Linked DNA regions of Homo sapiens. The protein of the gene in region 1 interacts with the protein of each later gene in a pairwise test. Each region holds a gene or a part of one and is shown on either strand. Other genes may lie near its edges. The genes, in order: PAX4, NTM and NRXN3.

Evidence for each region.
Region 2: the proteins of PAX4 (region 1) and NTM interact in a two-hybrid assay, tested with the Homo sapiens proteins (one large-scale study listed by BioGRID).
Region 3: the proteins of PAX4 (region 1) and NRXN3 interact in a two-hybrid assay, tested with the Homo sapiens proteins (one large-scale study listed by BioGRID).

Annotation. Positions count from the first base shown.
Region 1 is NC_000007.14:127,609,780-127,612,608, forward strand, and holds the end of PAX4 (paired box protein Pax-4), read right to left. Parts: intron 2,222-2,829; coding exon 2,166-2,221; intron 1,898-2,165; coding exon 1,756-1,897; intron 1,428-1,755; coding exon 1,285-1,427; 3' UTR 1,207-1,284; coding exon of another isoform or gene 1,073-1,206; 3' UTR 513-1,072; downstream 1-512.
Region 2 is NC_000011.10:131,369,076-131,373,433, reverse strand, and holds the start of NTM (neurotrimin isoform 9 precursor), read right to left. Parts: upstream 2,820-4,358; 5' UTR 2,628-2,819; coding exon 2,546-2,627; intron 1-2,545.
Region 3 is NC_000014.9:78,708,732-78,712,384, forward strand, and holds part of NRXN3 (neurexin 3), read left to right. Parts: intron 1-50; exon of another isoform or gene 51-485; coding exon 486-924; exon of another isoform or gene 925-1,229; intron 1,230-3,653. UniProt on the Homo sapiens protein: Neuronal cell surface protein that may be involved in cell recognition and cell adhesion. May mediate intracellular signaling. Functions as part of a trans-synaptic complex by binding to cerebellins and postsynaptic GRID1.

The DNA.
Region 1 (2,829 bases):
TTACAAGCCACATGTAACTACTGAGCATTTGAAATGTGGCTAATGTGAGTGAAGAACTGCATTCTTCTTTTTTTTTTAATGTGAATTACATTTAAATAGTCACATGTGGTTGGTGGCTACTTATTTAACAGCACAGTTCAGCACAGCACAGTATTTGATAATGAAGAGGCCTCTTGAATGACGTCTTCTGGATCAGTACCTATCCCAGATAGGAGTAAACAATGCCCCCACCTCCCCGCCCGCCGACCAGCATTGCACCATCATTATCCATCGCCTGACTTTCAAAAGGGAAAGAATTTGGAAGGATGAGCCTATCCTCCTTGCTGAATATCCGATTCTTCACCGCCTTTCCCCCATATTCCTCCCTTTCTCCACATCCTGAGACTTCTCAGGAAGGGCCTAGACCTTTATTTGAAGGGACAGAATTGAGAAGGTTTGGAACTTACTGCCAAAAGGACCAAGCAAACATGCCCCTGGAGCATGTATAAATAAAGCACATATAAATGGAAAGCAGAATATGAAAAATGGCATTTCACTCTGTTTGCTGCTATGACAAAAATACATATGCAAATACAAAATACATATGCAAATACAAAATACATATGACAAAATACATATGACAAAAATACATAATTTTCTTAGATTAAGAAGTTACAGTAAATTTTCTTAGATGTGGATATATTATTGTGATTATGTAAGACAAGTTTCTTGTTTTTTGGGGATGCATGCTGGAAGATTTAGGAATAAAATGCCATGATATAATGTCAGTGTGTGTGTGTGTGTGTGTGTGTGCGCGCACGCATGCACGCATACATAATACACATATAGATGCATACATAGAGTAGGTAAATTGATGCATTGACAAATACATTGTTTAGATACATGTATTGCCTACATACATGCATAGATTAGATGGTAGATACATAGATGTAAATAAATGATAGGGCAAATTGTCTATAATTGTTGAATATTAGAGTGGGCATAGGGGTGCTCATAGGGAAAACATGATGGACAACAGAACTACTGCTAATAAAAACAGCTTTTATTACTGCTGAGTGGAGGCCTCTTAAGGCTAGTGTGAGAAGTGGGTGGGTGTTGCTTTACCAGCCCCTCCAATCAGGTGATGCGCCAGAGAGGCATCGAGGCAGGGCCAGGCAACGTCCACACAGGAGGGAGCAATCACAGGAAGGAGGAAGGAGCCACAGTCTGTATGGGCAGGACGGTAAGGACAATGGGCAGGATGGTATTAGATCTTCTCTATGCCATCTCCTTCCCACTCCTGCCTCATTCCAAGCCATACAGTAGTGGGCAGCCAGGCCAGAGCAGGGCCTGAGAGCCACTAAGACTGGCCAGGTGACAGTGGGAGGAAGGGCAAGGAAGGCAAAGCAGTCCTGAGTCCAGGGAATTCGGCTGTGGGGGCAAGTGGCCTGTGGGGACAAATAGAGAGAGCTTGGGGTTATTGCTCCCACCCCACCTCTCAAAGTCACTATGGGAGAGAGGCTGAGACATCAGTTTCCCACCCTGCATATACACACTTGAATCCCAGTCTCACATCCTTTACCTGCTATGGCTGTCAGTGATACCATAGACTCAGGGGTTACTAGTCTCCGTAATTTTGTGGACCATGCAAAGAATGAGGAAAGCTGTATTGAGATTCCTTTGATGACCCCCAATGGAGATCCATGCCCTCCTGGAGGTTGAGTCAGTCGACCCTCCCTACATCCTGCAGGACTGAGGCCTGGCCTGAATTCTTACCCCAGCAGGGCTTGAGACAGGCTTTAGGTGGGGTGTCACTCAGACACCTTTCTGGTGCTGTTGCCCAGCACAGCTGATAGCAGGAGGGACCCAGTGGTTCCAGGGCAGGCAGGGCTGCTGTGGGCACACTGCCAGGGGACTGCTAAAAAAAAAAAGCAAGAGAAGAACCTTAGCTTCCAGTGATGCCTCCTGTAGAGAACGCCGGGACCCCAGAGCTGCCTGCCACCCAAGTAGTATCCTGCACAACTCCAGAGGGCACCATTCACATAGTAGACTTTGGGTTAGTACTTTCTTGACATGAACACTGTGGGGCCCTGGAGAGCCGGAGATCCTGGCTCAGGCCAGAAATGGAAGAGCCCATGAGCCCTTCAGTCTTCCCAGGGCACAGACTCCCCTCTCCTCCCGAGTACCTGTGCAGAGATGATTCCTGGGGCAACCCTTGGTACAGTCAGCCCCTGGGAAGCACCTATAAAATGAGAGTGAATCCACTCAGAAGGAGGAATTGGGGTTAGGGACGGGAGGAGTGTGGTGAGAGGCAGGAAGGTTGGATACAAAGAGGTTCTAGGAAAGTCAGCCACTTCTTGCAGGGGTGTGAAGAGATGGATATTTTAACCCAAAACTGTCCTCTTCCCCAAGACAGGTCCTTGGGAAACTGGAGAAGAATGATTAAATTCCAGTGATGGTACTGGGGACAGTGCAGCCTTAAGATCCGGGACTGTGTGTGCCCAGCATCTAGCACAGGGTCTGGCACTGGGGAGATGCTGAGTAAATATTGGATGGATGGGTGGATGGATGCACAGATTAATGGAAAGATGGATGGATGGATGGATGCATGGGTGCATGGGTGGCTGGATGGATGCATGGGCGGATGCATGGGTGGATGGATGGATGAATGCATGAGCAGATGCATGGATGGATGCATGAATGAATGGGTGGATGGATGGATGGATGGATGGATGGATGGATGGATGGATGGATAAATGGATAGGTAGATAGGTGGGTGAGCAGATGGGTGGGTGACTGGCTGGCTGGATGGATGGATAGATGGGTGGATGGATAAATGGATGGATGGAG
Region 2 (4,358 bases), on another chromosome or scaffold:
AGGTCAGGGAGGGGTTCCTAACCTGCCATTAGCACCAGACACCTTTTCAAGAGGCAGGAGGCACAGGAAGCAGCAGCTCTAGGAAGAACCAGCTTAAAACAAAAACAGAGGAGAAGAAAAAATCGCCTTGGAATGTGTGCTGCATTCTAACTAGTCCCACTGGGTCAATGCAATAGGGGTGGATTATTGCAGGCAAGACCTGGGCTGCCTCAGTAATTCTGCAAGTTTGATAAGAGATAGCTGGCAGACTTCAGCTTCCTTCCTCTGAAAGAGAAAACAGACATCACCTTTGCCACATCTGACTGGCATGCAATATGCGGGTCTTTGGGGGTCGTTCTGCGTTAAAATTGGGCAACCTTGTTCTATTACGACCACTGAAGCCTGTTCAGGGCTGACTGGGTGAGGGTAGCACAAATAAGGCCATCATTCTTTTTGAGAAATTCCGGATTCGGTAGAATGTGATAAGGTCTGAGATAGTGCTGTCGCCACCACCCCTACCCCAAGTTAGGAACAAGACCACAAAGTCAGATGGCACCTTAGAGAAATTGGCACCACCACTTTGCTACTCATCTATTCAGAGATGATTCAAAGTATGAGCAAATATTATGCTTCCCTGCATTTATTCTGATGAAAAAAAAAATCACGTATGCTAATTTATATGTAAATTCAGTATGGCCCTGGGGCTCCTGGCATGCAGCCAGCAGGGCTGTTGATGGTGGAAGTTTGGTCATTGTCTCCAGTTTGATGTTACAGGCAGAAGAGACATGGATCTCGGGACAGATAGAAATGACTGAGGGCTTGGGACCTTCCCTCTCCCTACCTCTGACCCCTCACCCTACCCCTTGCCTGCTTAGTTTTCATTTTTGCTGTCAACCCCCACAGAAACTGCTTTTCCGAAACTGCCCGATCCTGAACTCAGCTTCCCCACTTCATTCTTGTGCACCCAGAACAAGCAGGGGTGCACACACACGCACGCACACACACACACACTGATACTGCTTCATATTATATAAGAGGAGTCAATCGAGGATGCCTCCAAGTTGATTCCCTTCACTCAAACACCCACCAAAGCCCCTAGGGGACAGCAGGGAATCCTGAGGCCCATGCCTCCTGGGGTTGGGTGCAGCAGACGACATCATGGACATCCCTGCAAGATTCACCACCTTGGACTTCCTTATCACCCGACACAGATCCCTCCTGTCCCCACCCCTTGCCTTCTTCATCGAGCCCCAGTCAAGGGTGTACACATTTGATCCTTCCAGCCTGGTCTCTCTGCCCACCTTACGTGGATCCACACTGCAGCCACTGCAACCTATGTCAAGAGGACAGCAGCAATCCCTAAATCCTAACCTCGGAGAAGAGCCAGCAGGACTACAGCTCAGGACTCAGTCCAGATCAGGAGAACTCCATATTGCAGGGGGAGAAGAGGGCGAGGGGGTGGGACTCCCCATCGTTTTTCACCGGGTCAGAGGGAACTTTCCTCTGGGAATACAACTGCATAGGACTGAGCCTCACCTCCCAAGAGAGGGCTCCTCCTCCCGGAGCCCTGCTGGGCCACCCTGGGAAAGTTTCTCAGCTTGTCTCGATCCTTACGAGTTTTAGCTGTGTTTAATATAAAAGAGGCAAACTAGTTACCCCAAAGGACAGGGCAGGTGGGAGCAAGAAGATTAGTGGATAATTCTGTTGCTGGAACGAACAGACGTGAGAGCCGGGATGGGGTGTGGGGAGGCACGGTGCAGCAAATGGACTCAAGGTGGAGGCCGATTCCAAATGCACAGAACACAGCACTGGGGACATCAAAGCTTGCACTCAACTGCAGCCCCCAGGGCTCCCGGCTCAGCCGATAAATAAACAGAAAATTAGCATTCGACTCTTATTGCCTCTCTCCCTTCAACTTCGAAAAGCTTTTTAGAATTTCAGAGCCCCGGCTCCCCTCGCTTCCACACCTCCGACCCCAGCCACAAACACACCCCCGAACACATTTAAAACTAATACAGTTGTCCCCCACTGCTGCAAATTGACTCATCCCTTGCAGCTGGATCGCTGACCAGAACCTCACAGGAAGCACCTGATTCTTTCTAGCCTGCATTTTCCCCTTTGCTCCTTTTAAAAGCTTTGCAAGTTCGCTGGCCGATATTTAAAGTTTCCTCTTGTAATTTCTTCCCAGTCGCATAAGCAACACATTAGCAACCCTGTTGCCCTCCGAATCTGTCATTTCCCCCTGCTTACATGTGTGCTCCGTTGTGTATGTGTGCAAGAATGTGCATGAAGCCAGGGAGCCTTGCACACAAGCACAGTCCTAACAGGAGCACCAAACACATTTTACTTATGCACATACATATTCCCCCATTCCGGTAGCAGCCAGAATCAAATCAATATTCTCACAGCCTAGTCGGGAGAATGAAGTCCCAGCCATGCTGTCTAAACGCTCTCTCCTCCACCTGCAAACAGCGCAGCACAGCCGACTCGGGGAGTCTGCAAATCTTATAAAGCACACTGTACAATTCCTGGGTCTACCGAAGGCAAATCAATAGCAAGCTCTTACCTTGGAAGAGACACAGAGCAGCCAGCCCCGTGAAGATTGCCCAAGAGATAGAATTGTGCATTTTTGGCTGGATGGTTTTCATGATTTTTTTTCTTCTTCTTTTTCTTCTTTTTTGTCAGGTTCGGTTTTTTTCTTTCTTTCTTTCCTGATAGATTGTGTTGCTCTCAAGCTTGTGCAAGGAGATTTAAATCCACTGTTTTGCTGAAGGACACAACAAGAAAGCCGAGGGTGTGAGAGAGTATGACTTCTCCGTAATTATCTCCACTCATACTCTGGCACTGAGACACATTGTACAATCTGGCCCTGGACAGCCCTCCTACAAGCTGCAATCATTGGTTCTAATCCAAGGATTGACAGAGCTACAACACACGCGCGCGGGCACACACACACACACACACGCACACACACTCTCAGGAATCATTTACTGGGCAAATCAGGCTAGCTGATTAAAGAGACAGGAGCCTGGAGAGATAGAATGATAAATGCCACTTTGCCCCTTCTATATTACTTTCATTTTTTAAACTGACAGTCTCTGAGTCTTCTGAGTATCAGAAAATCCCTTTCCCCCTGGCATTCCCTGGCCTCCTGAACTCAGATTCCCTTTGCACTGGAAAAATCCCATAGCCAGCCATGGCTTATGGGAAATTTTAAAGGGACATTTTCATGCTCAGTGAAACTTGTAAAGATGAGGCAATTTTCATTTGTTGGTACCTATTTTCCCCTCCAATGGAAATATCATTCAGTGACAGCTTTTTTTTCTCTCTTTCATCAACCTTTCTACTTAGTTGCTTTGAAAATAGTAAATAACTTTCTATTTTCTCCTCCTGTCACTTCTGTTTCAGAACATCTATGTTACTCCTCTTTTTCATTCACTTTTTAGAAGTCAATTTCCTAAATTCATCCATGTGTATATGATACAATGGAAAGGTACAAAGTACCTGGTATTTGAGAAGAAGCTCTATAGTCTGAAGATGGAGAACCTTCTTCAAAAGAAAACAAAGCAGGAGTTTATTCCCCATGACTTGGTCAATCCACATCCACTAAAGCAATCATAGAAGCATCTGTGATTTAAACTGCAGCGAGAAAGATTCAGGGTAGACATGCGGAGGGGCTTTCTGAGTGTAAACTTTGTGTAGTTCCTCAGACAGTTGAAGACATTAACCTCCTTGGTGATAGGAAAGAATAAAAACCGAACAGAAATAATCTAATGGACATAAATGATTTCTTAAGAGGTCTAATTCTAGGGCCTGGAAGTTTATTCTAATCTTTGGCTTCCCCTTATGAGAAGCAAGTTAGAGGATGTGAACAAAAAATCTAGAAAATGTAGCTCCTGGCTGGGCACTGTGGCTCACGCCTGTAATCCCACAACTTTGGGAGGCCAAGGAAGGCCAGTAGCCTGAGCTCAGGAATTCGAGACCAGCCTGGGCAACATGGTGAAACCCTATCTCTACTAAAAAATTCCTTAAAAATATCTGGGTTTGGTGGTGCGCACCCGTGGTTCCAGCCACTTGGGTGGCTGAGGCAGGAGAATTGCTTGAGCCTGGGAGGCGGAGATCACAGTAAGCCAAGATGGCGCCACTACAATCCAGTCTGGGTGACAGAGCCAGCCCCTGTCTCAAGAAAAAAAAAAAAAAAAAAGAAAAGAAAAAGAAAATGTAGTTTCTCACAGAACCTTCCTTAGCTAATTCTGACACATTCATACCCCTACTATGCCTTGACACACATTTTAAAAATATTCTTCTAGAACTCCACCGCTAATTATTATACTTCCTTGTAACCCCATAAAAATGTTCATGTATTTTCAAACTGCATA
Region 3 (3,653 bases), on another chromosome or scaffold:
ACTTAACAATGTGACCTGGAGAGCTTCCACATCAAAACCAAAAGCAATACCTTGTTTGCAAGGCCTGCCTAATATTCCATTATAACGCTGTGCCATCTGCTATTGATGGTCATTTAGGTTGTTTCTGGTATTTTACTAAGGGTGCTTCAGTAAATCACTTTGTATGAAGTATGTGAATCCATGCAACTCGATCTCTCTTGATTTTTATTTGCAAGCTTATGTTGTATAACTTTCTGACAACACAAGAAATTGGCCAGGAGACAAAAGAAATTCTGTAGAAATATAGAGGCTTTTTTGGAGCTTGTGTGCACATCAGATGTTTCTTCAGATACCTTTTTGGTTCCTGTGTCTCATTGTTTCTCATGTTGTTTTGGGCTATGTCCTGAAGCCTCTTTTTGGGTCATTTTTCCAGGTGCCCAGTGAGTGATGGATGGATACTGTTTGCAAGATTGATTCACATGGCACTTTTGTTTGGCTTTTGACAGGTTGTTTATAAGAATAATGACATCCGTCTGGAGCTGTCTCGCCTGGCCCGGATTGCGGACACCAAGATGAAAATCTATGGCGAAGTTGTGTTTAAGTGTGAGAATGTGGCCACACTGGACCCCATCAACTTTGAGACCCCAGAGGCTTACATCAGCTTGCCCAAGTGGAACACTAAACGTATGGGCTCCATCTCCTTTGACTTCCGCACCACAGAGCCCAATGGCCTGATCCTCTTCACTCATGGAAAGCCCCAAGAGAGGAAGGATGCTCGGAGCCAGAAGAATACAAAAGTAGACTTCTTTGCCGTGGAACTCCTCGATGGCAACCTGTACTTGCTGCTTGACATGGGCTCTGGCACCATCAAAGTGAAAGCCACTCAGAAGAAAGCCAATGATGGGGAATGGTACCATGTGGACATTCAGCGAGATGGCAGATCAGGTAGGAAGAGGCAGGATGTGTGACTGAGACTAGACGAAAGCTGTAGCTTCTCAGTTTGTTTTTTGGCTTTATGTTTCTTAATTTTCACCCTTGCATGCTTGTTGATTCTTTTGCTACTCTCTTTAATGGCTGTTGTAAAATTATGTTTCTGAAAAGATACCTGTCTCATAGATGGCTCACATTCTCCGCTTATCTCTCTTGTCACTCACTGCGCAATTGTCTCAGTGATAGCTCTACGATCCTGGAGCTAAGGATGGTTTTACAAGTAGCATTTCCACTGCTACCAGAGCAACTCTCATGTCACTGGTGTGATCCGCCCCCATTGCCCCATTCTTTGCTTCTCTTTTTCCTCATCACCATGGAAACCGATTGTGACATCACAGATGCTGCATTATGTGATTATTTTGTAGGATAAACTTCACTGTGCAAGAATTTATGCAACAATACACCCTTCAGTAATTGGCAAGAGTCATGTTGCATGGAGAAATTATGACAAGAAAGGAAAAGGCAAATTGATTTTTCCTGAAGATACATTCAATTTAAAGCCTTCCTTTGGTGTAAAAGCCTATATTTCACTCTTTGTTCAGACCTCACTAACTCTCTCTTCCTCTTCATAACCTTTTACATTTTGTTTAAATGGCTTTGTTTCTGCAGCTGCAGATCAAACAAGCTAGCCCCAGGCAGTACATAGCTACTATGGAATAGTAACAAAGTGGGGGTGGGGGTGGGGCAAAATAGTCAGGGGTTTTTGAATGCCTGGACAGTCTGCCTAGCTTTCTATGGACCATGTGGCAATGAAGGTCACATTCTGTGCTATCAGAAAGGGCATTTTCCCAAGAGCAGTAATTAGAGCATTTGCCATTTCAGACTCATTTCCTGATTCTCCATTTAGGTAGGATGTACTCAAGAAGGGTCTTGGCTTCATGTGCCATATTTATAGAGATTCACTTTCCTGATGAACATTAAAAAGTCTCTATTTGGATATTTTCTTTCTAGGTACATTTGGCCAGTAAGAGAGAGCAATAAGTTCCCCAAAAGGCTGAAACTGGGAGTGACTGAGCTTTGGTGGGTTGGCTTTTCTGCATAATTCCAAAGCTAGGCTGACGGCAGAGATAGCAATATTGCCCTTAGGAAGAGCTGGATGGGTTCTTTGCAGAGGGCAGATGGGTGGCAGATTGCAGCCCTGGCTATTTTATTGCCCAGTAGGAATCTTTACTGGTTGTCTGAAATCTGATCAGAACCAAGAGCCTTCAAATTAAATGTGCTCGTTAAGCAAGAATGAATAGTGTCTACCCTTTTACACAGAAAAACACCCAAAAAATTAATTTCTTTGGAGGCTAAATCCCGCCACACCCCCCATACTTCTTCTTCTTCTTTTCTTTCTCCTTCTCTGCTTTTCAGTAAAATGACAGCAAGAGCAGAGTCAGAAAGCTGTTCCAGAATTATAAAGAAAACACTGCTGTTGGTTTTTAAGAGCATGTGTTTGGGATCTCTGAGGTTAGGTCACGGTGGACGGGTTTTGTGTCTGACTAACCTAGACCTTGGCACAGCATAAAAGTTACCTTACCCGTGTCTCAGGCAGGCTAAAACACACAAAATTGCCATTTGTTCATTTCTGTCTGTTCCTAATACAAATTTTTCTTTCAAACAATTTTGAACAAAGGGGAACAGTTTTTGTTGTTTAAACCACCAGTGGACCCAACTTCAACAAATATGTTTGAATTTCAGAAGTCTTAAATTTCATACCTGGGAGCTAAAGCACTGGCTAATTCTTTTCTCTTTTTTTTTTTTTTTTTTTTTTTTGAGACAGAGTTTCTCTCTTGCTGCCCAGGCTGGAGTGCAATGGCGCAGTCTCGGCTCACTGCAAACTCTACCTTCCAGGTTCAAGTGATTCTCCTGCCTTACCTCCCAAGTAGCTGGGATTACAGGCACCCTCCACCAAGCCCAGCTAATTTTTGTCTATTTAGTAGAGACAGGGTTTCACCATGTTGGCCAGGCCAATCTCGAACTCCTGACCTCAGATGATCAACCCATCTCGGCCTCCCAAAGTGCTGGGATTACAGGAGTAAGCCACTGTGCCAGGCCTGGCCAGTTTTTTGAACTACTGATGAATTTGATCAAAGCCTATTAAAAACTTACTGAGTAAACAAACAATTGTCCCATGAAAGCAGTATAATCTAAAATTTTAATACAGTCTGTTAAACTTTCATTTTTTCATGAGAATGTTTTCTGGTAACTTGTTTTAGATTATAAATCTATACTAAAGGATAGTTATAAAAACAAGTGTATCTAAATGTGGTGCCTCCTTCCCTGATAATCTTGAAGAATAATATAACAAACAGTGATCTAGAAAAACTTTTATGATCACTCCTCACTTGGGCAAGTCAGTCTTAGAACTTGTTAAGTGCATTCAAAACTGTTATGGTCACACATTCAGAGAACAGATTTTCCTCAGGTTGTATTTAAGGCTCTAAAATTTAAATTGATTCTAGTATTGTCTTTACTTGGCAATAGATGTCTCCCCATTTTAGTTGGTGATCAGATTAGCCCTGTGGACCTGTGAGGGGTAAAGAAAGAAAACTATGCAACAGAGAAAATAGTAAGAGATAGAGACCTCAACTTCCTCCTTTGTAAGATAGAGAAAATAATAACTCCTACCTCCCAATATTGTTTTGAGGATCAAGTCCAAAAATGCACATAAAATAGTTAAAATGGTAGCCAGGACATTA